Regions from separate parts of the Homo sapiens genome. Here region 2 is linked to region 1. Evidence: fine-mapped expression QTL. A gene starts in region 1. The other region holds a variant in brackets. All regions are shown on one strand. Distances are between the middles of the regions. Region 1 holds the start of LINC03018 (long intergenic non-protein coding RNA 3018). Region 2 has its middle 40 kb from the start of LINC03018.

Region 1 (15,743 bases):
GCAAAAAAGCAAACTTCCTCATGCTCTTGACACCTGCTGAGCTGTGCCATGCCTCCCCCCACTGGCCGTTTTGCCTTCTCTCATATCCTCTTAAGCTTGCGTTTTCTCCCATGGAGAAGCAGAGATCCAGGTAGCAGATCTTCCAGTGTAGGAAGCTTTTAAAGAGCCATGCTCATGTTTATCAAGAATTTTCATTTAAGAATAACAAAAATTGTTACAGTAATGTAGAATGTTAACCTGAAAAATTACCTGACCTCAATCTGTGTTTGCTAGACTCACATTATTATAAAAATATGATTAGTTTATAGCTCTATAAAAATAATTCATTATACTCACCCAGTTTTCTGAGAATTTTAGGAGTCTGCTCATAAGTTAGACAGAGATTCATCTACTTAACTTGAATACTTAGAGATAATTATCTTTTAAAAGTTTAGCAAAGCAGAATAAAACCCAGTTTCAAAACATAAAAGTAGAAATAGTTGAACTTCCCTAAAGCATTATTAAGTATTGTTGGGGATAGATGGGAAGTATGAATCAATTTGAAAGCTTTTAATATTTAGACCAGATTATGGGGTCATTTTTAACCAACTAGAGGTTTAAAAAAGCACAAAATTTATTTATATAAAATAAAAAGTATGCAGTGCTTTGTTCAAAAGAATCTACATGTTGATTCATCACCATAGTCATTATATATGTAGATATATATGTAAAACATCTCCCTTTGAGAAAGCAGCACGTGAAACATAAATACAAACTTGTGAAATATTAAGAAAACTCTAGCTGCTGAGATATTATTTGCTATGGTAGCAATGAGAAACAAGTTATTTCTGAGGTAAAAATCTATGATACGTATGAAATTGAATTGATTCCTTTCATAATATACTGTATTTTGAATCAGAGTGATGGTTTATGTATATGTCTTTCATTTTACATGAAAGACAGTATAGATAGGAGACATAATGAGAATGGTGTTAATGGAATAAAGGAAAAGACAGGAAAGGTAAAGTGTGAGCCCTCATGTAGGACAGAGATTTTCAAACTTTGGCATGTAGTGAAATCAACAAATAGCTTGTTAGAACCCACATTGCCAGGCACCCCCACTCCAGCCACAAAGATTTTACTTCATTGGGTTTACTGATGCAACTCAACAGTTCGAACTCTTAATAGGTTCCCAGGTGGCACTGACGCTGTTGGTTTAGGGTTCACACTTTGAGAGACATTGATGTAGGAGGGTTTGAAATATTTCAGCAAAGTTGATACCAGGCTATCATGAAGCTTGGTGAAACAGATTCCTCTGCTTCTGTGGCTATAAAAATGCTCATTTAGGATTTTTCTAAATGAAAATATATAATTCCTAATAAACTAAAACTACCTTCACATTGTTTCTTTTTCAAACATGGTCTGATTCACATTGCTGTTTGCTATTTATTTTTACTCAAATAAGCCTTCCTACAGAACTCTGTCACTGCAAATAGTCTCAATTCGCCATTAGCTAACATTCCATCTGAGATGAATCAGAGCTAGAAGAATGATTATTTCACAATAAATGCCTTTGGGTCCAATTTTTATGTAACTTTATATACTTATACAGCAAATCCCCTCCTCATGTGTCAATGGTCTGAGTAGACCTCATGTCCAATCCAGAATTAATCCCAATTCTGGATTATTTTAGGGTAGCTCTATGCATTAATTGGCATAAACTTCCTTTCTCCTAAGCCAATCACTGTGGTAGGAAGAATGGAGTTACTGCTCTCTCTGAACTACATTACTGCTATGCAATAACATAGGCTTTGAAAGAATATTGGTGTACTGTCTCAGGCTGGCTTTCTCAGATGCTTGCCCAAGACAAAGATTTGTATGCACATGATTTATTAATTATCTCAACAAGACAGGAAAGAGAAAGAAGCTAGCCTTGTATAACTGCAGGCAACGATCCCAGGATTGCAGTGTCAGCATGAACCATGGGGGAAGCTCTGGAAGGAAAATGAGCTCTCAGGGTAATCCTGACCTGAGATAAGACAGCTGGGCTTTCCTGCTTCTCTGTCATCCTTCAGCCTGAGGCTCAGGCTGCCCCCAAAGGATGGAGGCTGAGCTCAGTCCCATAGAAACAGTAAGATCTAAGGAGGTATGTGCAGGACAACAGCGGTATTCACTACAGGGTGACAACCAGACTCTGCCACACCAAGATTAAGAGATTTTATTTTATCTAATATGTCAGCACATCCTGCCAAACATGTGCAAAGAGGGAAAAATGGGACAGAGAGAATGGATAGTTCCTGAATTTGAAAAATGCTGGACTAAATAAAGTTAAATCGAAGACATTCTGCAGGTCTTTTATGAGCCTTTACTATATTAATGGCTGTTGTGAGTCAAACCACAAAATTGTTTTTATAAGACTGTCTCTCGGGTGTATCTTCTGTGAGACAGACTTTGGAAAAGCTGCTGTGAGTAAGGGGTTGTCAAAGGTTTGTAGAGCAGCATAATCAGATCAGGATTTATGGCGTGAAGTAAAAAGGGATGGAGAAAAGGAGCACTAAGACAACAAGATCACTTTGCTTCTGCAAAAGAACAAATGAAATATAATTAAATCATGAAATAAGCAAGTTGTATAGAAAACAAAGGAGGAAATGAACTAGACTATCTAATAGTTAGAATTGTCATAACTATGAAGGCTGTGAGGCACTAAAGAAGTTGGAGATCCCAAGGTCATTGGCTCAAGTGACTCCACAGCTAGTGAGGCCTTTAATGATGATGGAGAATTGATGAGGAGGACAATTCGGGGAGGCAAGATTAAAGTTTGAAAACTACATGGAGATGTGTGGTAGACAACTAACACTAAAGGTGTGGATTTTGGATTTACCAGCTTTGGGCTGTGACTTAGTCGGCTTGGGCTGCCATAACCAAACACCACAGACTAAATGGCTTAAACAACATAAATTTATTTTCTTAAATTTCTGGAGGCTGGAAGTCCAAGATCAAGGTGTTAGCATCATCAGTTCCTGGTGAGACCCACCTCCTTGGCTTGCAAACAATCACCTGCTCACTTGTCCTCACATGACTTTTTTTGTGGAAAAAGACTCTTCCTCTTCTTGTAAGGACACTAGTCCTATCATGTTAAGACCCTCATCAATCACTTTTAACATGATCGATTACTCTTTCAGTATCTTATTTAACATTAATTTCTTCACTATCTCCAAATACAGTCACATTGAGAGAATGGCTTCAAAATATAATCTTTTGGGAGATAGGAGAAACAATTCAGGTCTTAACTGAAAATAAATTCAGTGCTAGTTGGAGCCTAAAGAACTAGGAAGTTGACTAGACTGAGAATTGACTGAGAATGGGACTCAGGGGGCCTCCAACCTTTGTAAGACAAGGGGGATAAAGGAGAGCCAGACCTATCAACTCTCAGAGCTAGCAGACTTGAGAAAACCATGTTCACTGCTCTGTACTTCTGTTGCTTCACCTGTAAAAAGGAGCTAATGATTGTTTTTGTTTATGGAGCTTTTATGAAAATAATATATGAGTTAGGGCCCAGTTGGGAGACAGAACACATGCAATGTTTACAACCACAAAGTGTAATATAAGGAATTATTAACAGAAGATTTGCTTATGAGGAGTTGCCTGTTGAGAATTAAAGAGAATACTAAGGAACCTAGGAGCCACAGATGGAAGGAGCAGGCATGATTTCCAGGGCTGACATGAAACACCCAGGGAAGATCTCCTCATGGCCATCGTAGCTGAACTCCAGATGGTGGAGAATGCATGGCCGTGACTCACTGATGGCTCAGAAATCACTCAGGTGTCTCACAGTTGGTAATTGCTGGAAGTCTCTCCTCTGGAGTGCTGGAGAGACTTTCCACAGAGGGATGTACATGCCTCAGAACCTGTTAGGTGCTGGGAGACGCTGTTGGCCATTGGGCACTGCTATTTCAGGCTGGCACAGAACTCTGCGTGGTTTGGTTTAGGATGGCTCTGAGCTAGCTGTCTGGGAAAAAGGTTGGGGCTGGCATACAATGAGTACTCGGTAAATGTTAGCTATTTGCTCCTACTATGGTTCCTACTGGTACTCCTGCTACTGTTGCAGAGTAGTTAAAAACTAGACCTTTACAGCCTGGCAAACCTGGGCTCACATCCCTTATATGCCATTTATTAGCTGCAGGATAGTGGACAAGTGACTTAATCACCTTAAGACTCAATTTCACCGTCTGTGAAATGGCATTAATAATAGTATTTATCTCCTGGGTTTGCTGAGAGCAGTAAATAGGAACATAAAGGTGAACTGCCTTATACAGTAGCAAGCAAGTAGTAATAGATTTCCTTAAGTGGCTTTTAAAATGTTTTAAATAAATATTAGTTCACTTTCTCTCCATAGAATGTTCTTGACATTAAGTATAAAACTGAAAGAAAGAATATGGTGAGACAGTAAATAAATAAGTTAAATGAATGAAAGCTAAGTGACTTTTAATATAGTGATTATTCCATCTTATCTGTGTGTTGAGTCTGAATCTACCAGATTAATTTTAACTGGATGCCTTCTTTATTGAGTGTACACCACAGAGAAGAATTCTAATTCAATTCAGAAGTTCTGAGACAGTAAATTCTCCAAGTGGCAGGTCAACAGCAAATGTATGGATCATTCTGCCCTTTCAAACTCTCACATCAATACTAGTACGTAAGACTCTGCAGTTCCATGTAGAATTGAAATTACCAAATCATGCAGAATAAACTAACAGGCATCTTCTGCATGAGTCAATTAAGACCTTAAATGAGAACATAGTATCTTCTTTCTAGCCTCAGTGATTACATTTTTAATTACCACATATTTTCAGGCACGTCATGGAATTTGACGACTGATAGATTTGGTAAATTCTTCCTGGCTGCTATGGCTGGGAATTAAATTCCAGTTCACATAATTGTGTTTGTTGTTGTTGGTCCATTATGGATATCTACTACAACTGATAAACTCTCTAATCTCAGCTCCACTTGGCACAATGTGGACAAGTCCAAAAAAGAGAGACTTGTTATTGTCAAAAGCAATGAGTTTAAGTGAAACCTGTGACTAGTCACAAAGACCATATCCTTTGAGAGAATAGTCAGAGACTTTCAACAGCAATGTTATATTAGTCTAGCTCAATTACCATTCTCTAGCTTAGTGACAGAAATAATAAATTTCAGAATCTCAAGATATTACTACCCCAGGACAGTAGTTCCTTGAATTCCTTATTCACTGTGCTTTGATTTCATTTTGTGTAGCTAGTGCTTATAAATAAGTGATTTCAATATGTGAGATTTCATCTGACCTATCCAAATATCTGGGGAAAAAAAATAAAAAGAAGTCCGTAAGATTCTGTTTGTTTCATAATTGCTGTGGTCTCCTCTTTGATATTTCAAGCAGATTATTTGCAAACAAGTAGAAATCTCCATGCTAAATAGTCATCCAAACAAGGTTTAAAGTCACTGGCAGGAACTCCATTGCAAAACAGTTCCTAAAAATAAAAAAAAAAAAAGCCCAGATAGAATAAAATAAGAAATTTTCACCATTATATATTGGTAGCATTAGGAAACATGGCAGAAAAATAATTTTTTAAAATTTTCTTGTAAGAACAATGTTAATATTTGGTATTAGATGTTGCGTTGTTCACTAAGAATCTAATATAAAATAAACCATATATGATCAATTATAGATGTTTAGGTTATAAATGCACATATATTTATCATCCATAATTGATTCATGTATTACTATAATATTCCAGCATCTGCTAAATTTAGGCTTATTATTTCACCTTCTTTTTTTTAACAGCTTTGGAAATAACGTTTATGTTTCCTATGTGCAACGTATACTGGTGTTTTCTTTTTTAAAAAAACTATTTCCACAGGCTTTTGGGGAAGAGGTGGTATTTGATTGTGTGAGTAAGTTCTTTAGTGGTGATTACTGAGATTTTGGTGCACCCATCACCCAAGTAGGGTACACTGTACCTAATGTGTAGTCTTTTATCCCTCACCTGCCTCCCACCCTTTCCCCCACTCCCCAAAATCCATTGTATCATTCATATGCCTTTGCATCCTCATAGCTTAGCTCCCACTTATGAGTGAAAACATACGGCGTTTGGTTTTCCATTCCTGATTACTTTCACTTTCATTATATACTGTATCTCAATGGTTTATCATCTATATAAATGGACTTTAAAATGTGCAGCTTTATTCTACAGGTTGAACATCTCTCATTTGAAAATCTGAAATCCTAATTGCTCCAGAATCCATAGTATTTTGAGTGTGTACGTGATACTCAAAGGAAATGCTCACTGAAACAGGTCGGATTTTGGATTTTCAGATTAAGGATGTTTAACTGGTAAGTATAATGCAAATATTTCAAAATCTGAAAAAACATCTGAAATCTGAAACACTTCTGGTCCCAAGCATTTAGGATAAGGGATATTCAGGCTGTATCCTATTTTGACATAAACTAATATGTTTTTCTGGCATTTTAAAGATAGCAACACATCTTTCACCATCCTTCCATTGAAGAATGGATCAGTTTTTCATCCCCTTGAATCTAGGCTGAACTGTGACTGTTTTGTTGTATATATTACAGAGGAAATGATGCCACACCAGTTCAGGATTTACCCTTTAAAAGGATTGGCAGCTTTCAGCTCAGTCTCTTGGAGCCCTGAGCTGTCTTAGAAGAAGGCTGACTATTCCTATGGGAGAGACCACACAGAAACTAAAAATACTTGGAAGAGGAGAGGGGCTCAGTTGAGCCCAACCTTCCAGCCAACTCCAGCAGGGTGGCAAGTATGAGAGTGAGGATATCTTGGAGCCTCAGCAACCTGTGCTATCCAATAGCTATCAGCCACATGTGACTACTGAGCACTCAAAATGTGAGTAATTTAAATTGAGATATACTATAAGAGTAAAATAGATACTGGATTTCCTTTTTTTCTTTTCTTTCTTTCTTTCTTTCTTTCTTTCTTTTTTTTTTTTTTTTTTTTTTTTTTTTTTATTTCTGAAACGGAGTTTTGCTCTTGTTGCCCAGGCTGGAGTGCAATGGCACGATCTCAGCTCACTGCAACCTCTGCCTTCCAGGTTCAAGTGATTCTCCTGCCTCAGCCTCCCAAGTAGCTGGGATTACAGGCATGTGCCACCTAATCCCAAAATATCCCCGGCTAATTTTGTATTTTTTAGTAGAGACAGGGTTTCTCCATGTTGCTCAGGCTGGTCTTGAACTCTGGACCTCAACTGATCCTCCCGCCTCAGCATCCCAAAGTGCTGGGATTACAGGCATGAGCCACCATGCCTGGCCACATATTGGATTTCTAAAAATATGTTTAAAAATCTCATTAAGAATTTTATATTATGTTTAAATAATATTTTAGATATATTGTATTAAAATAGGCTATTAAAATAATTCCACTTAAAATTTTTATATTTGGTTATTAGAAAATTTAAAATTACTCTTTCTCTATGTATATATGTTTGCATAATTGGACAGCGCGGCTCTCAACCATCCCAACCACCAGCTGAAAACCCGGTGATTTCAGTCGGTATTACTTGAGCCATTCAGCTGAGCTGTTTCTGAATTCTTGACACACAGAATCTGTGAGATAAAATAAAACAGTATTGTTTTAAGCTATTAAGTTTTGGAGTAGTTTCTTACACAGAAATAGGTAACTGAATGACATACATAAAAATATTAAGTAATTCACAGAAATTATGCTCAACCTCTTAGAATTTAGAAGAAAGAAATGTGCTTGGCCCAAGCAACATTTTCACAGTCATGGTTAATAAATTATAATATAATGCCTGATTTTTTCCTAAATTAATTATTTGTAGCAAGTATGGAGTCTTAAATTTATTGATTTAAGATTTTGTCTTTGATAAAAAAACTCTTTCTTTAACTACTGAAGAGAACACATAGGAAAAGAAATAAACTGTAGAAAATTAAAACCAATATTTTAATTGGTTCTGTTCATTTTATCAGGGAACAGAAACAGGAGATCCCAGTGCTTCATTATTAGTTACATTGTTTGCATTAACATTTGCAATAATCAATTGAAATGTCAAAAATAATCTTTATCCAGGATTCTTAAATCAGAAAAATCCAGATTAACTATTAGGAATACTATTTTCTGGCTAGGGAATATTGAGTAAATAACATAGCTTCTATGAATCCATTTTCTTATCCACATAATAGAAATGACAACACATTAATTATCTATTGAATTATTGTGAGGATTAGGGGAGCTAACATATGTAAAGCACTTATTTCAGGGCCTGGCACAGGGTAAATGCTCTGAAAGTGAGAGATTTAATAATAATGCATAGGGTAATTACATATGAAAGACTGAAATAGTAGAGTTGCCCTGTCTCAAAAAAATTACATACTTGGTTATGGCATAATTATTGTAACCCTAGTTGTTGTGGAAATGTTATAAACTTGGCTACCTCTTACCTATCTCTTGATTACACAGGTGGAGCATCCTGCATGATTCTATAGCACTCAACAGGTGTCTGCCAAGCGGACAGACTACAGACCCCTCTGGCCGCATGATGCTGAGCTTCCCCTTGGACACATGAAGATTAAGTTAGTCAAGCATGGAGATTCCTCCCTCTCCTTCACAAACTCCAGATGTTTGGCATCTCCCCAATATCCTAAGACCTCCTGGACTGGGAACAAAATGAGCGTAGTGAAAGAGGAAGCAGCTTTAGAGAAAGCACCACAGGGAACAAACCAATAAAAAAGCAGGAAACTCAGCACAAGCCTGATTTATGTCACTGCACTTCTCTACTCTCAGCCCCATTCCCCCAAACTCCCAGCAAGCACACAAGCACACACAGGCACACACATGCACATGCGCACACACACATGCACATACACAACACACACACACACACATGCCTTCTGCCAGCAGCTCTCTTTCTCACTCTCACTTTTCTTTTCAAATGCTGGCATTTGAAAAAATCCCCTATTTTGTTTCACCCTCCTTTTCTGCCTCCCTAAAGAGCTTCCGAAGAGGAGTTTTGATGGTGCATCTGAGTGTTAATAGATTCGGGAGTGTGAAGCTGTTGCCTGAATCTCATTCCCTGAGAGTGCCTTTCTCTTTTTAATAGCTGAGAAAGAATTGATCAAGCCTCTGTTTTAGTCTCTGTTTCTAAACAGAAAGAAAGAAAGAAAAAGGAAGGAAGGAAACAAGGAAGGAAGGACATACAACGTAAAAACAAAAACATTTTTACGACGATCCCTTTTTCAACAGCTAGGGGCAATCCAGTGTGTTCAGTTGTGTTAGTTCTGTGTCTGTCAGGAGAAAAAGCCATGTAGAAGTGATGATTTAGTTTTCTTGGTGGGAACACAAGGGAAGCTAGTTGAAAGCAATGGTTGTGGGGTCTTGAATGGACAGGCAAGTCCGGTAGTCAGAAGAAGATTTTGATTAGAAACAGAGGAATTTCTTCCAGGAAAATACATTGTCTTCATGACAAACCAAAAATACACCAAATGTTCTGAAAACTGCCCTTTAAAAAGAAAGAACAGATTGTTCAATTGAAACACTTTCCTGAAGCCAATTGTTGCAGGCTGCCAGCCACCTTCAGTACCAGCCACCCCTCCGTCCTCCCCAGGGCCGGTATAAGGGGTGCATGAGAGACACGTGCATGCAGAAGACTCCACCATGATGCCTGGCTCCCATTGCACTGTCCCAGAGCGGCGTAGTGGCAGCTGGGGTTAGTGCTATCTGTCATGAAAGGGCATTCTACTCCGGTTGGCAGAGAACACTCACACACGGGGAAGCTGAGCCATCAGTGCAGGAGTTAATTCCCGTTTGCAATAATACTAAGGATGTCGCATTCATATATACTCAATGAGCACTAAAGGAATCATAGGAATATGCTCTCACAGGAGATAATGTAGCCACAGTAGATAAAGGAGGATGTCCTGGAAGAAGGGGAACCTTTTTTAAGCCAAGGGAGAAAACCACTGAAAAGTAAATCTTTGCATGTAGCTGTGCAGCTCTGCAGATCTAAAATCTGTGCTTTTTAAAAGTATACTCTGTGGAGTAGCAGTCCACATCAAAAGGTCACAGTTTAAAAGTTTTGTATTGTGCTTGGGTTATCCCTTAAGATGTTAGTTATATCATCACAAAAGAACAAGAGTAAACTGTAATTTACTATTTTTGGAGTATTTTTTTGTTGTTAGGCATTTGAAGGATGAGGTGCACAGTGCCCAAGAGTATGTCACAGCGGCAATTTCCACTTTATGCAGAATTAATACTCAATTACTTATCTGCTTACCTGGACCTTGAGTGAATAATAGATTCCTAATAAAGGGTTTTTGAGCAAATGGACAAATTGGATGCATTTATGTTATAGCAGCCACAACAGCAAAAGAAAATCAAACACTTACAAAACAGAAGTCAATCAAGTTTTAACTAGAGGAGACACCAAAGTATCATACAGTGGAGGAAAAATTCAAATGTTCTGCGCCAAGCTCCTATCATGCCAATTGTACATGTTTGTGCGTATGTAGGGTAGCTAGGGTTGGATGTGTAATCATCCCTAAAATTCATTTGGTGAAGAAAAATACATTTTATTTGAAATCATTGTCTATTTTTATTCCTGCCAATATTTTGTATAACATAGAAGTCTGCCCCAGAGTGTAAATAAATAATGAGGAAGGTCACAGATCTAAATATACTATCTTGGTTCAATAATAAAAAGAGAATTTTTTCCTCGTAAGATTATTTTTTTCTTTGTGAACTTTGTATTAATTTAGGATTTAGGCGAATAATACATTGAATAGCAACTTTTCATATTCCTATAAATTGTGATATGCAGCTTCATAATATATAGTCAATAACCGAGCATCACTCTGTAGGTGGGGGGAAATGCTTTTTACCATAACCACGGAAGATACATTATGTCTCTCTGAAACCACGGAAACTTTCTAGCTGCTGAAAGCTGTTGGCACGATGCAATGCACCTTAGCAATGGAAGCATCCCCTCTGCCCCCTCCTGCTGAGACCCAGCAAAGGCCATCTGCTAATTGTTCTTGTCTTTGGAGTTCCTCCTGTGACCTGCAAAGAAGGTTCTCCATCCATATATCAATCTCTCTCTAACCCACATTTTCTGATTTCTCTGGTGCAGCCAGAATGGTCCCAGGAGAGCTCTAACACACTACATATCTGATGCTTAAAAAAGACCTCTTCATTACATGGCTTCAATAATGGTGGGCTAAAGGGAGCCCAGGCACCCTGTCCCATGCTCAGGTGAGTTAGAGAATGCTCCTAGGAGGATACTCCACATGCTGCGTAAACCTGGGAAGCTCAGGGCTTAAGCCTCAGAACAGCTCTAGACATCCTGAGAAAGGCTGAGAAGACACAAGCCAAAACAAGCATGAAGTCATCTTCAAATTTTTTACTTCTAAAAGAGAAAGTATCTCTTTCTCTTTCTTTAAACAGGCTATTACAGTGCTGTACTATTTGTTTTTTTACCACACGCACACAAATATTGCCCATATCTAAATATACATCTTGCCCAAACACACAAGAAATGGAGCTAAAGTTTCTTTTTAGCAAATTACAGGCTCTAGCTATCTATGACTAAGTCCAGGGAGATCAGGTTGCTGCATCACGAGGCAGCTTTTTCCCTTTGCATGCCAGTGTGCTGGGTGGTATGTGCTGTGTGTACAAAAGGAGACTCTTTGATGCTACGAACACTGGTCTCTGTGCTCTGGCATCAATGTCTCTCTCCTGGCCTTGGGAGAACTCCATGCCATACGGTGTGCTGCTCCCCTGGGCTCTGAGCATAGGGCTATGGTTATGACAAGGGAAAATATTAACAAGCATTGCAAGGTGATGACAACGTTACAGAAGGCAGAGGGTTTTGAATGTGGTGGTGACAGATGGTTGTCTAAAAACCCCTGAAGGAATCAGAAAATATCCATAGACCCTTGGCTCCCTAAAGTCTTCCCTTGAGGGTCTTTGTGGAGACCTGTTTTTCTCACTCCTTCATTACCCATTTTTAATTTGACATAATTTCTGCCAATTTCCTTTCCTAGCACTGCATCGTGCAATACAGTAGCCATTAACCACACGTGGCTATTTCAATTTCAATTGAAATCAATTAAAAATAAATAAAATTTAACTTCAGCTCAACCACACTAACCATATTTCAACTGTTTAATAGCTAATGCTGCTACTAACAACAGTATGGACAATAGAGATTAACACTATTCTAGAATAAGACTCCCCATTTCCACAGCTTCAGTTATGACGCATGCTGGAATCACTGGGGACTCATGTCTTCTGGCATTCTTGATCTTCCATCTGTAGTCTCTGTCTTTCTTCATTTTCACACTTACCCTTCTCCTCACCCTATGTAGCTAGTCTAATCCATACACATTTTCTCAAGTTTTGAATTGTTATTATTGAAAACATTTTCTTTTCAAAACACTTCAGTGTTACCCAAGACCAAGTTTCTGAACAGTGATTCACAGGCTTTAGCTTTTACTTCAAAGACCACAATATTGATTACTCAAAAATCTAAGAGATGCTCTTAAGGCAAAAAAGTGATCATAATTCTTCAATATTTAATAATGGACTGGCTAGATTTAGATTCTGCAACATTAAATTATCTAAGGCCAATGTCCCTTTAATTTCCTTTGAGAAGTGATTAAAGCTACTAGAATGCTGCCATTCCAGGAAGGAGAAAATATATTCACTAATAATAGCTAATGTTTATTGAATGCAGAATCGATGTCAGGCATTGAGTAACCACTGAGTGCTCCACCAGATTGCCTCTTTTCAACCCACAGCGATCTTTTGATGTAGATGTTATTTCTATTTTACAACTCACCAAACTAATGCACAGAAAAATTATATAACATTCTCAAAATAACAGAGGAAAGTGGCAAAAACAAGATTTGAACCCACATCTTTCTCACTCGAGAGCCGAAGTCCTCAAGCTTGATGCAGTTTTCCCTCTTCAGTATGGTGTACTTTGATCTTCCTAGCTGTTTTACTTATTATCTCCTTTGCTTCTCCAAGAAGTCTTATGAAGTAGTCCAGGCCTCATATTAGTGCCTGATACACAGTATCTGATGAATAAAACAGTGTGTCAGTTTTCTTTTCCCAACTTGCAAATGACCAAACTGAAACTTAGAGAAGTTAAAGGTAGAGGGACGCAGAGACAATAAGATGTAGTGCTGAAAATTGCACCTGTATCTCCTGATTTCACTAGTGCTAAAGTCCTGCTTTCATTACTCTCAAACATGAATAAATAATAGATGTTATCTCAGGAATTTCCTCCTACTGTCAATAAGGATTTCTAGTTCCAGAAAAGATGGTAAGCTTGCACACGCTACTGGCTTCTTCCCCTGAACCCACCCTGGAAAAGCCGCAGAAGTGAGGAGGTTAAGTATTCTGAACATCACAGAACACTCATGAGAAACACTTGAGGAGGCACTGGAGCTGGCCCAGGACAAAACTACAAAAGCAAGAGATGCATGAGGTCTGGTCACCTCTGGGAATCCTCTACTCTCTCCATCTCTCTATACACACGCTGTGGATTAAAAGAGTCTCAGAGAATAGCATCATGGCGAAGAGGGGATGGGAGAGCTAGTGAGGTTTGTCTGGAGCAGAGCCTCCCCAGAGGGGGAAGGAAGAAAATGAGTATTTTTGGGGCTCTGATTGCAAGACCAGAGGCTCCAATGTCCTAAGGCACCAAAGCTAAACCTCCTATGGAAGAGAACAAGCTGCGACTTCAGAGCATTTTCCTTCTCCCAGACCTATATTGTGAGCCAGGAGTAACAAAGAATTCCAAGAGGAATAGAACTCAAAGGGAAATAAATGACAACATTTGAGAAGTGCTAGCACTGTAAAGGGCAAGAAAATAAACAACCTAGCAGGAGTTACACAATGAATATACCAGATATAATAGGAGTTTTAAGTAAACATAAATAAATGTCTTCAGGGATGTAAGAAAGGACACTAGAAACAAGAGGCAAGTACACAAAGTAACACGGCATTCAACTGGGGATATTAAGTGTGAAAATGTAACTGTTGAAGTAAATAATGCAAAAGATGCATTGAGCAGCAGAATGTACTGAAAAAAATAACATTTTACTGCCCTGGAAGGTACAGTTGAGGAACTCTCAGGGCAGGCAACAGGGAAGGATTAAGTGACTTAAAACATGAGGGAAACATCAGAAGACGGGAGGAGAGGAGTGGACACATTGATAGGTATCTAATGGGAACTTCAGAAGAAAAGCATTAACAAGTAGGGTTCAGGTATCTAAGAAATGTATACTTAAAAAGTCCCAGACTCGAACAGGATCAATAAGAAACATCAGCTACTAGACACATTAGAGTAATATTTAGAAAATCAGTGACATTGATAATTCTAAAAGTTTCTTGGGGGGAATAAGAGGTCACTTCAAAGGAACATCAGATTTCACAACTGCAACACTAACTGGAAGAAAACAAGGTTGTAAGAGTTTCAAAGGATTCAAGGCAAAGAACTAAGCTATTATCTAAATGTGAAGATAAAATAAAGATATTATCACACATACTCAGCCTCACACAGTTAATCATGCAAAGATTCTCTGAGAGCACTCTCGGCAAAGTTCTTCAGAAAGAAGAAGAAGCAATGTGAAACAATATAAGATGACTAGAAATTTAAGACTTTCATTATTGTTCAAATAGGCAATGATCAAAACATGTGTATATAAAATGCTAAAAATACTTTAACATGAATGTGGGAGAGACTAGGAGAAAGATACTATCAAGAATTTGTCTTAGTTGAGAGGAAGGCATAATTACTGAGAGGCATTTGAACATGTCAAGAAAAAAAAACAATGTGGCAGTGACGTAATTGCCATAATAATAATAAAATGTTAAAAAAATAAAACTTTATAGATTCAATTGAAAGTTAAAAACTAGAAGAAAGAGATGCTATGTTTTAAACGAAAATATAAAATAAAATAGAAATTGTTTTTAAATGACAGCTATTACCCAAAAACACTTAAATTCACAAACACAAAGACTCAGATTGAATACAAATGAAAAATATCAAGATATTATTTAATAGAAACAAATTTAAACAAAAAGCCAGAAGCAGTTTAAAAACAACAGGGGAGAAAAACATATACCCATGAAATACGAACCCAAATATATCCAGTGAAAGAAATTTAACATAAGACAAAATAAGATTTAAAGCTTAAAAAAATCAGTAAAGAAAAACAAGACTGTTAACTGTTAGTAAAAGGACAATCTATCAGAGTTTATGACCTTAAGACTATATGCACTTACTGAAATATAGTTTCCACAATTGATGGGGTTACAGGGGAAAAATTAATGTATTTACAAAAGATGGGATTTTTAATAAATTCCTCTTGAAAAGTAATTGGCCAATAGTCAAAATAATTTTAAAAGACACAGAAGGGAACAAGTTAATGTACCTGAATTAATAGATAAAGAGAATATTTTACATCCTATAAACAGAGACTATATATTCTTTTTTGGATGCAAAGAAAACAATTACAAAAACTGAGTATGTACTAACCTACAAAGAAAACTCAGTAAATTAAAAAGAATTAATAGCAAATAACCATGTCTTCTGATAATCTGAAAAATAATATAAATCATTAATAATGATAAGCTAAAAAACTTACTATGTGCCTGAAATTTAAAAACACGTAAAAACCATATAATTAAAAATTAGAATAAACACTGAATTAATGAAGCATTATAATG
Region 2 (15,743 bases), 41 kb before region 1:
AATAAAAAAGAAAACAGAGAAGAATCAAATAGATGCAATAAAAATAATGAAGGGGATATCACCATAGATACCACAGAAATACAAACAACCATCAGAGAATAAAGTACCTCTACACAAATAAACTAGAAAATCTAGAAGAAATGGATAAATTCCTGGACACATACACCCTCCCAAGACTAAACCAGGAAGAAGTCGAATCCCTGAATAGAACTGAGGCAGTAATTAATAGCCTACCAACCAACAAAGCCCAGGACTAGACAGATTCACAGCCGAATTCTACCGTAGGTACAAAGAGGAGCTGGTACCATTCCTTCTAAAACTCTTTCAGCAATAGAAAAAGAGGGACTCCTTCCTAACTCATCCTGATACCAAAACCTGGCAGAGACACAACCAAAAAAGAAAATTTCAGGCCAACATCCAAGATGAACTTTGATGCAAAAATCCTCAATAAAATACTGGCAAACAGAATCCAGCAGCACATCAAAAAGCTTATCCACCATGATCAAGTTGGCTTCAACCCTGGGATGCAAGGCTGGTTCAACATACACAAATCAATAAACATAATCCATGACATAAACAGAACCAATGATAAAAAACACATGATTATCTCAATAGATGCAGAACAGACCTTCAACAAAATTTAACATCCCTTCATACTAAAAACTCTCAATAAACTAGGTATTGATGGAACGTATTTCAAAATAATAAGAGCTATTTATGACAAACCCACAGCCAGTATCATACTGAATGGGCCAAAACTTAAAGCATTCCCTTTGAAAACCAGCACAAGCCCTCTCTCACCACTCCTATTTAACAGAATATTGGAAGTTCTGGCAAGAGCAATCAGGCAAGAGAAAGAAATAAAGGGTATTCAGTTATGAAAAGAGGAAATGAAATTGTCTCTGTTTGCAGATGACATGATTGTATATTTAGAAAACACCATCGTCTCAGCCCGAAATCTCCTTAAGCTGATAAGCAGCTTCAGCAAAATCTCAGGATACAAAATCAATGTGCAAAAATCACAAGCATTGCTATACACCAATAATAGACAGAGAGTCAAATCATGAGTGAACTCCCATTCACAATTGCTACAAAGAGAATAAAATACCTAGGGATACAACTTACAAGTGATGTGAAGGACCTCTTCAAGGAGAACTACAAACCACTGTTCAAGGAAATAGGAGATGACACAAACAAATGGAAAATCATTCCTTGCTCATGGATACGAAGAATCAACACCATGAAAATGGCCATACTGCCCAAAGTAATTTATAGATTTAATGCTATTCCCATCAAGCTACCAGTGACTTTCTTCACAGAACTGGAAAAAACTACTTTAAATTTCATATGGAACCAAAAAACAGCCCATATAACCAAGACAATCCTAAGCAAAAAGAACAAAGCTGGAGGCATCACGCTACCTGGCTTCAAAACGATACTACAAGGCTACAGTAACAAAAACAGCATGGTACTGGTATCAAAACAGATATAGAGACCAATGGAATAGAACAGAGGCCTCAGAAATAACACCACACATCTACAACCATCTGATCTTTGACAAACCTGACAAAAACAAGCAATGGGGAAAGGATTCCCTATTTAATAAATGGTGTTGGGAAAACTGGCTAGCCATATGCAGAAAACAGAAACTGGATCCCTTCCTTACACCTTGTACAAAACTTAACTACTGATGGATTAAAGACTTAAACATAAGGCCTAAAACCATAAAAACCCTAGAAGAAAACCTAGGCAATACCATTCAGGACATAGGCATGGGCAAATATTTCATGACTAAACCACCAAAAGCAATTACAACAACAGCCAAAATTTACAAATAGGATCTAATCGAACTACAGAGCTTCTGCACAGCAAAAGAAATGATCATCACAGTGAACAGGCAACCTACAGAATGGGAGAAAATTTTTGTAATCTATCCATCTGACAAAAGTTTAATATCCAGAATCTACAAGGAACTTAAACAAATTTACAAGAAAAAAAAAACCCTATCAAAAAGTGGGCAAAGAATATGAACAGACACTTCTCAAAAGAAGATATTTATGCAGCCAACAAACATATGAAAAAAAGCTCATCATCACTGGTCATTAGAGAAATACAAATCAAAACCACAATGAGATACCATCTCATGCCAATTAGTTTGGCAATCAATAAAAAGTCAGGAAACAACAGATGCTGGAGAGGATATGGAGAAACAGGAACACTTTTACACTGTTGGTGGGAGTGTAAATTAGTTCAATCATTGTGGAAGACAGTGTGGCAATTCCTCAAGGATCTAGAATTAGAAATGCCATTTGACACAGCAATCCCATTACTGGGTATATACCCAAAGGATTAGAGATCATTTTACTATAAAGACATATGCACACGTGTGATTACTATAACACTATTTACAATGGCAAAGACTTGGATCCAACCCAAATGCCCATCAATGATAGACTGGGTAAAGAAAATGTGGCACATATACACATGGAATACTATACAGCAATAAAAAAGGATGAGTTCCTGTCCTTTGCAGGGACATGGATGAAGCTGGAAACCATCATTCTCAGCAAACTAACACAAGAACAGGAAACCAAACACCACATGTTCTCACTCATAAGTGAGAGCTGAACAATGAGAACACATGGACACGAAGAGGGGGCACCACACACTGGGGTCTGTCAGGGGGTGAGGGGCTGGGGGAGTGATAGCATTCGGAGAAATATCTAATGTAGATGACGGGTTGATGGGTGCAGCAAACCACCATGGCACATGTATACCTATGTAACAGATCTGCATGTTCTGCACATGTACCCCAGAACTTAAAGTATAATAAAAAGTTAAATTAAATTAAAAATATATATATAATATTCATAAGATCATCATATCAGCTATGGTTATCAGGTCCATAACTCACTGTGTAGGCATCAGTCAATGTAACCATTCATCTTTTTAAAACAGGGGAATTGTTAATTAAGACTTCTGTCCTTGAACATAACTCTATGTCTGTGTCCCTAGTGCACACCAATATCCAAGTTCTCCTGAACATACATCCCATTTATATTTTCTACTCTTCCTGGCATCTCGGTGTGGCCACATAACTGAAATCTGGCTAAAGGAAAGGGAGTAGATGTCATCTGTGCCATTTCTAGGAAAGGCCCTTAAAAATCTCCTTAAAGCAATTCTCCCTCTCTCTGTCTATCCGCTAACAGGGAGGAGAGGGTTCTGAGGACACAGAGGAAGGGGAAACCTGGAGGTGGAAAGAGCTTAGGCCCAGAATGGTAGTGCCCTGCAAAGCCCTGGACCCTGCTATTAGCTACCTCAGGCTGACGGGCCAGGCACACAACAAGGCATTGAAATTCTGAGGTTGTTCACACCCGTTAGGCTGTTCCAAAGAATATACCCCATTTTAGCAAATGTCTTCTACATTGTATTTATTTACTTGCCCAGCAGTGGTAGGAAGAACAATTCCATTCTTACATCCGTAGCATATAGCACAGAGCTTGGTACAGAGTAGATTCTCATTACATGTTTATAAATGAATGAATGAGTGAACATGGAGAGAGAAAAGAAAAACTTCCAAATACAATGAAATATGCATTTCCATCTGGTATCTTTAAAACACAAATCTTTACTGCATGTTTTGTGTCCACATTTAAACGGGGTTGTTGATAATAACACTGGATAGTTTTTAGCTTTTTAAAAAATTAATAAAAATTGCATGTATTTATGGTATGCAACATCTGGTATCTTTAAAACACAAATCTTTACCACATGTTTTGTGTCCACAGTTAAAGGGGGTTGTTGATAATAACACTGAATAGTTTTTGGCTTTTTAAAAAATTAATAAAAATTGCATATATTTATGGTATCAACATAGTGTTTTGAAATAAGTAAAAATATATAACTTTGTTTTCCAAAATCACCTTCCTCCTCTCTAATTGTAACCATGAGGGAAGGAAACATTTGTCTTCTGTGCAGAGGTTCTTTGTACACAAATAAACACTGTTCTTCGTCTGCCATCAGGGATCATGTCAAGGGACCACTCTCATCACCTCTGCTTCACTGTCAATGTGAAACACTTGTGAGGCTGGAAGCTGCCAAACCTGAGGGAGCCTGCATTCCTGTGCCCCCACAGTGAGTCTTCACTGTGACTTCCCAAGCAAAGCACTGGGGGCCTCTCCAATTTCACTTCCTGTGGGCTTGCTCTTGCAGGCCAGAAGGAAGACGAGCACTGCCTGGCAGGGAGTGCAGTGCCATGAGGTACAGCTGGGCTATCCTCTCTGTCGCTGGGCAAGGACACCAGCTGCCAGTTCACAGAGAGCAACTCCCACTGTTTCTCATCGTGGGGATTTCTCTGGACCCTTTCCTCAGATCTTTTGTTAAGCCAGCTGTTAAACAACACCACCAAAAATAAATAAATGAAAAAATCAAATTGACTTTGGAAAACATTATCTACTGTGAATTACCTTTGAGTTAGCCTCATTCAGCTCCTTTTACTGCGCTCAGTCTGGGGAGACATGAGGAGTACATGGAGGTTCTCAGGGCTGCCATGAGAACCTCAGCTTTCCCCTTCACTAGATTCATGGCTGTGACCCAGAACTTATCCTTTCTGAGTCTCATTTTTCTTATCAAAAAAAAAAAAAAATGAGAACAGTAAACAAAGCGTTAGGATTGTGTTGGAAGGGGAATATGAGAAAAAGCTTGGCAGAGAGACAATACCTGTTATCACACTGAGAACCATGTGTATTGGTGAGACACGAGGGAGCACAGGCAGTTGGATTTCATTTCCTGCCAGGAGGAAAGGAGCCAAGACAGCTCACCCAGGGTCACTCAGGGCCTGAGTCTGTTAGCCAATGAAGCCAGAGCTGGAGCAATTCCTGCCTCATAGTCCAGTGCCATTTCTATGCTGTCTTAAGGATTCCCACTGCCCAAACCATGTTTATTCCTTTGGGTGACACATTTCTTTCCCAGCGCTAAGTGAATGGCACCCCATAAAAGTATTACTCCACTGTCCTCAGTAGCACCTCTACATCCAGCCTATCTCTATCGTAGTCCCACTGTGCCAAGTCCTTGGCCAAGGGCACAGAGGCAGCAGGGGACCATAGTGCTTCCTCCTCTTCTTAAAAGAACTTAAAAAAATGGCAATATCCAAAGGAGGGGTCCTAAACACCTCACAAGAGTTCAAGTTGCTCCCTGTGTGCTGGTCTTTCTCATGCTATGAAATCTAAAGGAGCAATTAAGTGCTTAGTTGCCTCAAAAGCTGGGCCTGGGCATCTCAGCCCTACCATGCTCCCAGTGTGAGGGGCCCTGCTTGAGGTGCTCCTGAAATGTCACAGGCCTTCCCTTTATGAAGTCTCTCATCCTGAGACTCCTGCAAATTGGTGATTCCTTCAATTCTGGAGTTGAATCTATCACATAGTGTTGCTGACCACAGCAGAGCAACTGCTTGAACATTATCTAAACTCAAGTGACAGGGGTCTTTTGAAAAGTATGCACCAGTACCCTGGTGGGCAGCCCTCCAAAGCCAACCTGAAAACAAGAACACAGCAAGGCCCATCCCTCTCTGTGGCTCCAGCAAAATGGGTGTCCCAAAGATGCCGTGTGCTCCATCCCCTATCTACAAAGCCACGCAGAGTATTTCTTAGAAGCGCGGGGTATTGACCTTATGTTCTGCAAATCACTGCACGGTCTCCCATGCAATCGTGTAGTCAGCTACTTAGTTTTGTAAATCTGCAGCAGAGAGACTTGGGTTGTCCTATCGCAAAATGAATCCTGTTGCAAAGTCCAGGAAGAAGATACTAGAGACTAGGGTTGACAAAATTCAGTCCAGTTATTTCATTCCATATTAAAAGTATCAAATAAAAAGTGAGACAATTTTATTAATTTTCACATGTGATACTTAGCTTATCTTCTCATTAAAGAAATACATCTTAATTAAAAGCTGTTTAAGATGATATGCTGTGCTGATTTACTCCACCAAAACAAATAAAACAAATATTTACTAACCGTTTGTTTAATGTGTCAGGAGCCTTATTCTGTACTTTACATGTTATTTCATTTTATCATCATAAATAAATCATGATATCACAAATACTGTTCTTTAGAGAATACTATGTGTCAGGCCCTGTACTGACGTCTCTACATGTATTATTAGTTCATTTTATTGTCATAACTCAGTAAAACTCTTACTACAGAATGAGCATCCCTAATCTCAAAATCCAAAATTTGAAACTTTCTGAGCACTGACATGACATGCGTAAAATTCCACACCTAATATCATGTGATGGGTCAACATACACAAACTTTGTTTCATGCACAAAATTATTTAAAGTGTTATATAAAATTGCATTCAGGCTATGTTTATAAGACGTATATGAAACATAAATCAATTTTGTGTTTAAACTTGGGTCTCTTCCCCAAGAGATCTTGTTATGTATATTCAAATATTCCAAAATTAAAAAAATTCTGAAACCTGAGGCACTGATGGTCCCAAGCATTTTGGATAAGGAATACTCAACCTGTATTGTTATCCTCATTTGTCAAATGAGGAACTTTAGGCACAGAGAAGTTCAGTAACTTGCCCAAGTTCACATAGTCGACTCAGAGCTGGGATTTTCACACAGGAGCCTGGCTCCCAGGTATATAAGCTCCAACTGCAGCTGCCTACACTAAGAAGTTCCCAGCACAGCCTCTGGCAAAGGTAGGGGCCTTCAGGACTTCCCACAGAGGGACTCACTTCTTCCTTTGCCCTCTCATTCTGTGCCACGTGCCTGAAAACCACAGACTACATTTCATAAAAGTTGCCTGAGTCAATGAAGGTGTGGGTAGGTATAATTATTCTAATTTTGTAAGAAAAATTAGCTCTGAAAAGCTAAGTCAGTCAGGGCAGAACCACTCAAGATTCAATCTCGGGCCACGGTGCTTCTAACATCTGTGATGTTTAACCTGCCTCACAACAAATACTCCTGTCTGCAACATGTGCGCATACCTTTGCTATAGAATTGTTCTAGCATATATTATTATTGATGTATTTGCAAGGCATTCTCTTCAATTCACCTGGGAGCATTCTTCAGGATGGGGGTCAAGGGTGGGAGGTGAGGGTCATTTTGTCTTTCTGGGCAACCCCAGCACCCCACTGTTTCTGACAAATACAAGGCACCCAGGAATGGTTTGTTGAATATATGACAAATGAGAGAATAAAGGATAACTTTATAATAAAGCCTTTATTTGCTTCTCTAAAACAACCTTTTCTTTGTTTTTACAGAAGGCGATGAGATCATTTTT[A/G]TTCTATCACTATAGCTTTTGCTTGAGAAAAACATTAACAAGTATCTCCTTCCAGAAATCTTGCAGATCAATTTGTTTAGTCATGAGGGCTCAGCAGCCATCTGTTACTCAGCTGCAGGAGTTGTTTATTCATACTTTTGCCCATTCATCTGTTTTGTGTTTCCTTTTGTCCATATCTCACTTAAGATAAACAAAATCCTGTCAGTGTGTGAAGAAAGCCAAGCCTCCGAATCTGCCTGTGCTGAGAACAAGGGTATTCTTTGTCAGAAGGACGAAAGAGCCGAGGGTGGAGGGAAGACTACACACTTCTTATGCTTGAAAAGCAGAAGGTCATCGTACTTTACTAATTATGGAGTCCTCCTAATCATGTCTGATTTTAAAGTGCCCGTTGGGTTACTTAGGAGTATAAGATGCAGCCATTCCAGTCCTGCGAACATTTCCAACACTATTACTGCTTTTCACGTTATTTGTAAAACTTCTCATTTTTTCACCTAGGCAAAAGATTTTTCTTCTCTAATTCAGAGAACAAATTCATAGACATAGACAGGTTTTCTAATGAAAGAGATACCATTCTCCTATCAACTCAGAAACTGTGGGAAAGACATCATTAGTCACTCTTCACCATCTTCTTCTAAGGAGAATTTCAAATCAGTTCCCTGCCACTAAATTTCATAAGTGACAAAATTTCCCATCCAAATTGGCTTAATCATAATGAAATTCCATGTATCTGAAAACTCCAGAGTTAGGACAGAATTCAGAAAAGTCTTGATCAGAATTTACATGTTTTCTTCTGCCTTTCACTCCTGCTGGCCTCTGTATGGGATTTCATTCTCATGGGTCTCATACCATGGTGAGATGGAGGTAGGGGCTTCAGAGATGTGTTTCCAGCTACACTACAGGGAGAAAGGATTACCCCTTTCACTTCCAGAAGCTGCAGCAAATATTTCTTTCTTGCTCACTGACTTTGATGGTGACACAGGCCCATTCTCCAACCCTCCATTTAGGCCAGAGGAAACCAAGAATCTAATTGACGAGGCCCTTACAACTTTTGGACCTTTTGGACCTGGGGTATGGGACCAGAGAGGTGAGTCCACTCTACTGGAACCACAAGTGGATCCCCAGAAGAAAACGTGGAGCTATTAACTCAAGAAGGGCAGATAGTGAACAGATAGTTAACTGACTGAAGGTGCCTGCATCCTGTGGAAACTTATTCAGCCTTTGAGTCACAGCCAAATTTTACCAGAGGTACAAAGAGGAGCTGGTACCATTCCTTCTGAAACTATTCCAAACAATAGAAGAAGAGGGACTTCTCCCTAACTCATTTGATGAGGCCAGCATCATCCTGATACCAAAACCCGGCAGAGACACAACAAAAAAAGAAAATCTCAGGCCAATATCCCTGATGAACATCAATGTGAAAATCCTCAATAAAATACTGGCAAACAGAATTCAGCAGCACATCAAAAAGCTTATCCACCACGATCAAGTTGGCTTTATTCCTGGGATGCAAGGCTGGTCCAACATATGCAAATCAAGAAATGTAATCCATCGCATAAACAGAACCAATGACGAAAACCATATGATTATCTCAATAGATGCAGAAAAGGCCTTTGATAAAATTCAACATCCCTTTATGCTAAAAACTCTCAATAAAGTAGTTATTGATGGAAAGTATCTCAAAATGATAAGAGCAATTTATGACAAACCCATAGCCAATATCATACTAAATGGGCAAAAGCTGGAAGCATTCCCTTTGAAAACTGGCACAAGAAAAGGCTGCCCTCTCTCACCACACCTATTCAACATAGTATTGGAAGTTCTAGCAAGGGCAATCAGGCAAGAGAAAGAAATAAAGGGTATTCGAATAAGAAGAGAGGAAGTCAAACTGTCTCTATTTGCAGACAACATGATTGTGTGTTTAGAAAACCCCAGCATTTCAGGCCAAAATCTCCTTAAGCTGATAAGCAATTTCAGGGTACAAAATCAGTCTCAGGATACAAAATCAATACACAAAAATCACAAGCATTCTTATACTCCAACAGTAGACATGCAGAGAGCCAAATCATGAGTGAACTCCCATTCACAATTGCTACAAAGAGAATAAAATACCTAGGAATCCAACTTACAAGGGACATGAAGGACTTCTTCAAGGAGAACTGCAAACCACTACTCAAGGAAATAAGAGAGGACACAAACAGATAGAAAAACATTCCATGCTCATGGATAGGAAGAATCAATATCATGAAAATGGCCATGCTGCCCAAAGTAACTTAAAGATGCAATGCTATTCACATCAAGCTACCAGTGACTTTCTTCGCAGAAATATAAAAAACTGCTTTAAATTTCATATGGAACCAAAAAAGAGGCCGCATAGCCAAGACAATCCCAAGCAAAAAGAACACAGCTGGAAGTATCATGCTACCTAACTTCAAACTACAAGGCTACAGTAACCAAAATAGCAAGGTACTGGTACCAAAACATATATATAAACCAATGGAATAGAACAGAGGCCTCAGAAATAACACACACATCTACAACCATCTGATCTTTGACAAACCTGACAAAAACAAGCAATGGGAAAAGAATTCCTTATTTAATAAATGGTGCTGAGAAAACTGGCTAGCCATATGCAGAAAACAGAAACTGGATGCCTTCCTTACACCTTATACAAAAATTAACTCGAGATGGATTAAAGACTTAAATGTAAAACCCAAAACCATAAAAACCCTAGAAGAAAACCTAGGCAATACCATTCGGGACATAGGAATGGGCAAATACTTCATGACTAAAACACCAAAAGCAATGGCAACAAAAGCCAAGATTGACACATGGGATCTAACCTAACTAAAGAGCTTCTGCACAGCAAAATAAACTATCATCAGTGTGAACAGGCAACCTACAGAATGGGAGAAAATTTTTGCAAGCTACCCATCTGACAAAGGTCTAATATCCAGAATCTACAAGAAACTTAAAGAAATTTACAAGAAAACAAACAACCCCATTAAAAAGTGGGTGAAAGATATGAACAGACACTTCTCAAAAGAAGACATTTATGCGGCCAACAAACATATGAAAAAAAGCTCGTCATCACTGGTCATTAGAGAAATGTAAATCAAAGCCACAATGACATACTATCTCGCACCAGTTAGAATGGTGATCATTAAAAAGTCAGGAAACAATAGATGTTGGTGAAGCTATAGAGAAATAGGAACACTTTTACACTGTTGGTGGCATGTAAATTAGTTCAACCATTGTGGAAGAGTGTGTGGCAATTCTTCAAGGACCTAGAATCAGAAATACCATTTGACCCAGCAATCCCATTACTGGCTATATACTCAAAGGATTATAAATCGTTCTACTATAAAGACACATGCACACATGTGTTTGTTGCAACACTTTTTACAATAACAAAGATTTGGAACCAGCCCAAATGGCCAAGAATGATAGACTGGATAAAGAAAATGTGACACATATACACCATGTAATACTATGCAGCCATAAAAAAAAGAATGAGTTCATGTCCTTTGTAGGGTCATGGGTGAAGCTGGAAGCCATCATTCTCAGCAAACTAACACAGGAACAGAAAACCAAACACCGCATGCTCTCACTCACAAGTGGCAGTCTAACAATGAGAACACATGGACGTGGGGGGGAACATCGCACACCAGGGCCTTTCAGCGGGTGGGCAATAAGGGGAGGGAGAGCATTAGGACAAATACCTAATTTATGTGGGACTTAAAACTAGATGTCGGGTTGATGTGTGCAGCAAACCACCATGGCACATGTATACCAATGTAATAAACCTGCACATTCTGCAAATGTATTCCTGAACTTAAAGTAAATTTTAAAAAATCAAAGAAAGTTACACACACACACACAAAATTTTGAGTGATAACATTATAATCACAATAATATATATGACCTGATTTTATTAAAATAAATATATTTCCACATTAAATTATGTCTGTTAATACAAAATAATTGGAGGAATATAACAGAGTGCCACCCTGCACCATCCATTTACTTCTTTGTTCTCCTTCTTCAGAAAACAAACAGAAAACTGAAACGAAGAAAAAATGCTATATTTGTTTTCCAAGGCACATTGCTACCAGTGCTAAAAGCACATTCTCTGTCTCCCTGCTTGACATGTACAGCCACTTGTCCAAGTTCTGGCTAATGCTGTGAGTAGCAGCATGGCGAACTGTTAAGAAGTCTTTCCAAAATGGAAGTGGCGGACTCTTCCTCTTCCTTCTTCTCTTTCTATTGGCTGGAATGAAGAGGAGCCGGCTAGACTAAAGGTGCCATGGATAAACATGTCCAGAGTCCCTAAAAATTGTGAAGTTATCTTCAGTCCTCTATGACCAGCTCCAGATTCCTTTTATGTGCTAGTGAAATATATTTCTGTCTCACTTAAGCTAGTATAATTTTGAAAGTCTTGTAGATGTTATCATTGCTTAGGACAGTATTATACACAGTGATACAGATCACATACTGAATTTTTACAGTAGTTTCCCTAAGGAGCAATAATGGAAGAACAGATTGGGAGTGAAAGTTAATATTGTAAGTAAAAACAAAGTTGAAAATTGTTTCATCTATTCCCACATTGTGGAATTATATATTTATATTTGTGTAATATATAAATAATATAACATAATTTATAATACAACGTGGATTTATAAATAATGGACAAATTGGACTTCGTTTTAAAATGATAAGTTCAGAGAACTGTATTTTGGTATAAAAGTTTGATCAAGGTTACTGCATCTCGTGTCCAGTGAATAATTTGAGTCTTAGTCATTAAGCAGGATTCCTTGTATATAATAGTTGGACACAGGCATGAAGGGCAAGGTCCCTGCCTGCAAGAATTGCAAGTGTCTGATGAAGATAGATAGGAAAGCAAGCACTTGATAAATAGTGCGAAATATGCTACTTTAGAAGCAGTCCCAGAGTTTCATGACTGCACTGCCTCTAGTCTTAGTTAGTTAAGAGGCTTCCTGAGGATATAATGTTTCTCAGGGGATTGAGGGGAGGTACAGGAAGGGTTAAAGAGGAAAAATAAAAGAGAGCAAAGGAAAGTAAGTGCAGATATTGTCCCTTTAGAATAAAATGTGTACATCTTTGATGGATTAACAATGCAATGAAAATAGAAAAATTTGATTTCACCTAAATTGTCCATATCCTCAACCCTCCTCTAAATGATAGACCTGCCTTGGCCCCAGAATAGCAAATTTCTGTTCCAGAACAGAGAGTAAAACTGTGAAGCTAGTATAGAAATATTGTTTCCCAAAATAAGTTCCTAAATTTGAATTTCTTTTCAGATTGGGAAACTTATAGTGGTATGGAATATAATTTTGGCAGTCACGCATAAAAGAATCACATTTTCTTGCTCTGTACTGACACCTCAGCTCTCTCTCTGATTTAATGCTGCTTTATACCTCAGAGGTTCATGCAGCCTCAAAATGAACAGTGTTGTGACTTTTGTTAGGATGATCTCTTTGGAACAGAGACCTAAGGAGGTCCTATGGTTGAGAAAGGCTGTCAATTCCCTTAAAGTGAAAAAACGGAACTCTATTAGTTATTATTAAGAAACCCACTCTCTAATAAAGTGTTGGTGCTGTAACATACACAGCCTTGCAACAGATAAGATTCCAGAGCAGAGTCACATGTAGAAAATAGAACAATGCCATATGGATCACAACCACTTCCTTCCTGAATTCCAAATGCTGCAGGGGTTGGAAAACTCAGAAGCCTACAGGGGTGGACAGGTAGTGCAGATGACTGACAGGTGGGAATAAGAGAAACATCAACCAGTCCTGTGACTGTCTATTCAGCTAAAGAAGAAGCAATTTACTCAGCTTCAAGAGATACAACCACACAGCAATGCAGCCCAGTTTCCAGAGCTTGTTTTCAAAGACAAGCTAAATGAGATTTTAACGTGGATTCTCCTCTTTTTTATACTAACAGTTATAGGCCCAATCAGGCCATATGCCGCCACATGCAATCTCTGCAAGGAACAGTGGCAACATCAACTTACACAGGTCGAAGATCCCTCATTTGAAATGCTTGAGACCAGAGATGTTTTGGATTTGAGATTTTTTAAGATTTTTGAATATTTGCATAAACATAATGGATATCTTGGGGATTGAACCCAAGTCTAAACACAAAATGTATTTATGTTTAATATATACCTTCTACTCATACCCTAATTTTGTACAATATTTTCAATAATTCTGTGACTGAAGTAAAGCTTGTGTGCATTGAACCATCAGCAAGGAAAGGTGTCACTGTGTGACCCATGTGGACAATCTGTGGTTGTTTGGCATCACCATCATTCCTGGCTGAATTTAAATGCTGCCAATAAGCAATTATTTTCTCACACTTATTCACACATAAGTACATCATAGTAAAAAAATGATATGCCATTCATACAGTGAAAAAATAACATGTTGAGGGTAACTAACCAGCTCAGTAGCGTCACCAGAATATCTGTGTCAGCTGTTCCGCAACAGCAACAACAGACACCACCAGGCTAGATGGCTAAATGGCTTTTAAAAACATTTCCTCCAGGGTCATCTGCCTCATTGACAACATGTATTTTTCTTGAAGTCTCTCTGATTTTATAAACGAGCATGATTTCTTGCTCTGCTATGAATGGACATTGCTCTAATTCTTCAATAAGCCCCATCACACTTTTTTCCCATGTCATCTACGGCCACTTTTTCTGCAGTGTTAACAACATCATCTTCCTTGTCTACTTGTGGCATCATAGTGAAGCTCAAAAAGTTTCAAATTTTGGGTTAAGGATTTTTCAATTAGGGATGCTCGATCAGTAGCTCCTCAGCACTCTAAGAGAAACTGGCTGGATAATGTAAAAGAACAAGAGGTTTCTCTCAATATCTACTTTAAAATAAGAGGGTCAATTTCACTTGAGAAGATCAATAGAGACCTATTCTACACGAATGACCAAAAAAAAAAAAGACCCTTCAGTACAAACCACCCCCTCAACCATCCACACCCAGAATATTGAACCAGACCATTCCAGCTTCCGGTAAGTTCTCTGCTATTTTACAAATTCCAACAGAGTGCTGGATAGAGTTCCTATTTTAATATTAACCTGAGAAGGGTAGATGGGTCAGAGATGAATAAAGCCGGGCGCGATGGCTGATGCCTGTAATCCCAGCAGTTTGGGAGGCCAAGGCGGGCAGATCACCTGAGGTCAGGAGTTCGAGACCAGCCGGGCCAACATGGTGAAACCCCGTCTCTACTAAAAATATAAAAAAATTAGCTGGGCATGGTGGCAGGTGCCTGTAATCCCAGCTACTTGGGAGGCTGAGGCAGGAAAATCGCTTGTACCCGGGAAGCAGAGGTTGCAGTGAGCCGAGACGGTGCCATTGCACTCCAGCCAGGACAACAGGAGTGAAACTCCATCTCAAAAAAAAAAAAAGAATTTCATTCTTCAGATTTTGAGACCTAGGAAAGCTCCACTGCTTTGTTCTTATGGAGCTAACTTGTTAAGATACTGTCTTAAAGTCATTATCCTTTATTAAACCGTACTTTCTGTTATCTTTAGATATTCTAGAATACTTATTATTTTATCTAAAAATAGACAGGTGGAGATTCATCTTTCACAATAGCTTCCTAGTCAATCTCTTAGCAGGTAGCAGAGGGAATCAAATCAAGAGGTTAATCAATTTGTACGCTATTGTGGTGATTTTCCAGTATCTTCACAAAGACCATATTAGGGATATTGATTTCTTGAGAGGGATAGGAAAGAAAAAAGTCAAACTGTAGCCTTCCTGGCTGAATTTCCAGGATCTATGTTAGTTCACTAATTCAGCAAATATTTTGAGGGTAGTAGTTCCTATATTTTCTAGCATTCCAGATTCAAAAAGAGAAACAAGTCAGGATTCTAACAAGGCAGATAGTCACCTATCTTTTTTGGTGAGTCTGCCAAGTGGACTGTTGCAGTCTTGAGTAATCTTCTTCATCCAATTGTTTAAAATTGTAAATAAATGATTTACATGATAAAATTTCATAGATTCTCTGAAGCTTCACATCTAGACAGAAATGCCCAAAACTTTAGGGGCCAATGTATTTAGCTGGGGCTCTGGAGCAGCTCGTGTATCTGAAGCTATGTCTCTCACACCACAGATGGCAAGGTTCAGAGGGACAGAGATTCATTTTTTTGTGTGTGCCTGGAAGAGTTCCAGATCCTTTGGCCACAAGTCAGCATGGTCCCTACCCCCAGGAAGCCCCAAGCATGGTGGCACCTTAATACGACCCAGGCTGAAAGACAGGGTCAGGAAGGTCCTTAAACACCCATTTCCTAGTACACTTCCTGCTATTTTGTGAATTCCAAAAGAGTGCTGGATAGAGTTCCCATTTTCATATTTACATGAGAGGATAGATGGGTGAGATATTAATAAACAATTCTGGTTTTTATTAAATAGGGAATCCTT

What was found. PIP is the estimated chance that this variant, and not a neighbour inherited with it, causes the effect.
Region 2: its variant is fine-mapped to the expression of LINC03018 in tibial nerve (GTEx, PIP 0.97).

The regions. Positions count from the first base shown.
Region 1 is chr8:57,739,470-57,755,212 of GRCh38, forward strand. LINC03018 (long intergenic non-protein coding RNA 3018) reads left to right here and starts at 6,680. Exons shown (of 2, transcript NR_134276.1): 1 at 6,680-6,881; 2 at 8,472-10,728.
Region 2 is chr8:57,698,412-57,714,154 of GRCh38, forward strand. No RefSeq gene overlaps it. Among named protein-coding and RNA genes, the nearest start is that of LINC03018, 40 kb to the right of the region's middle. The variant A/G (reference allele first, on the strand shown) is at 7,285.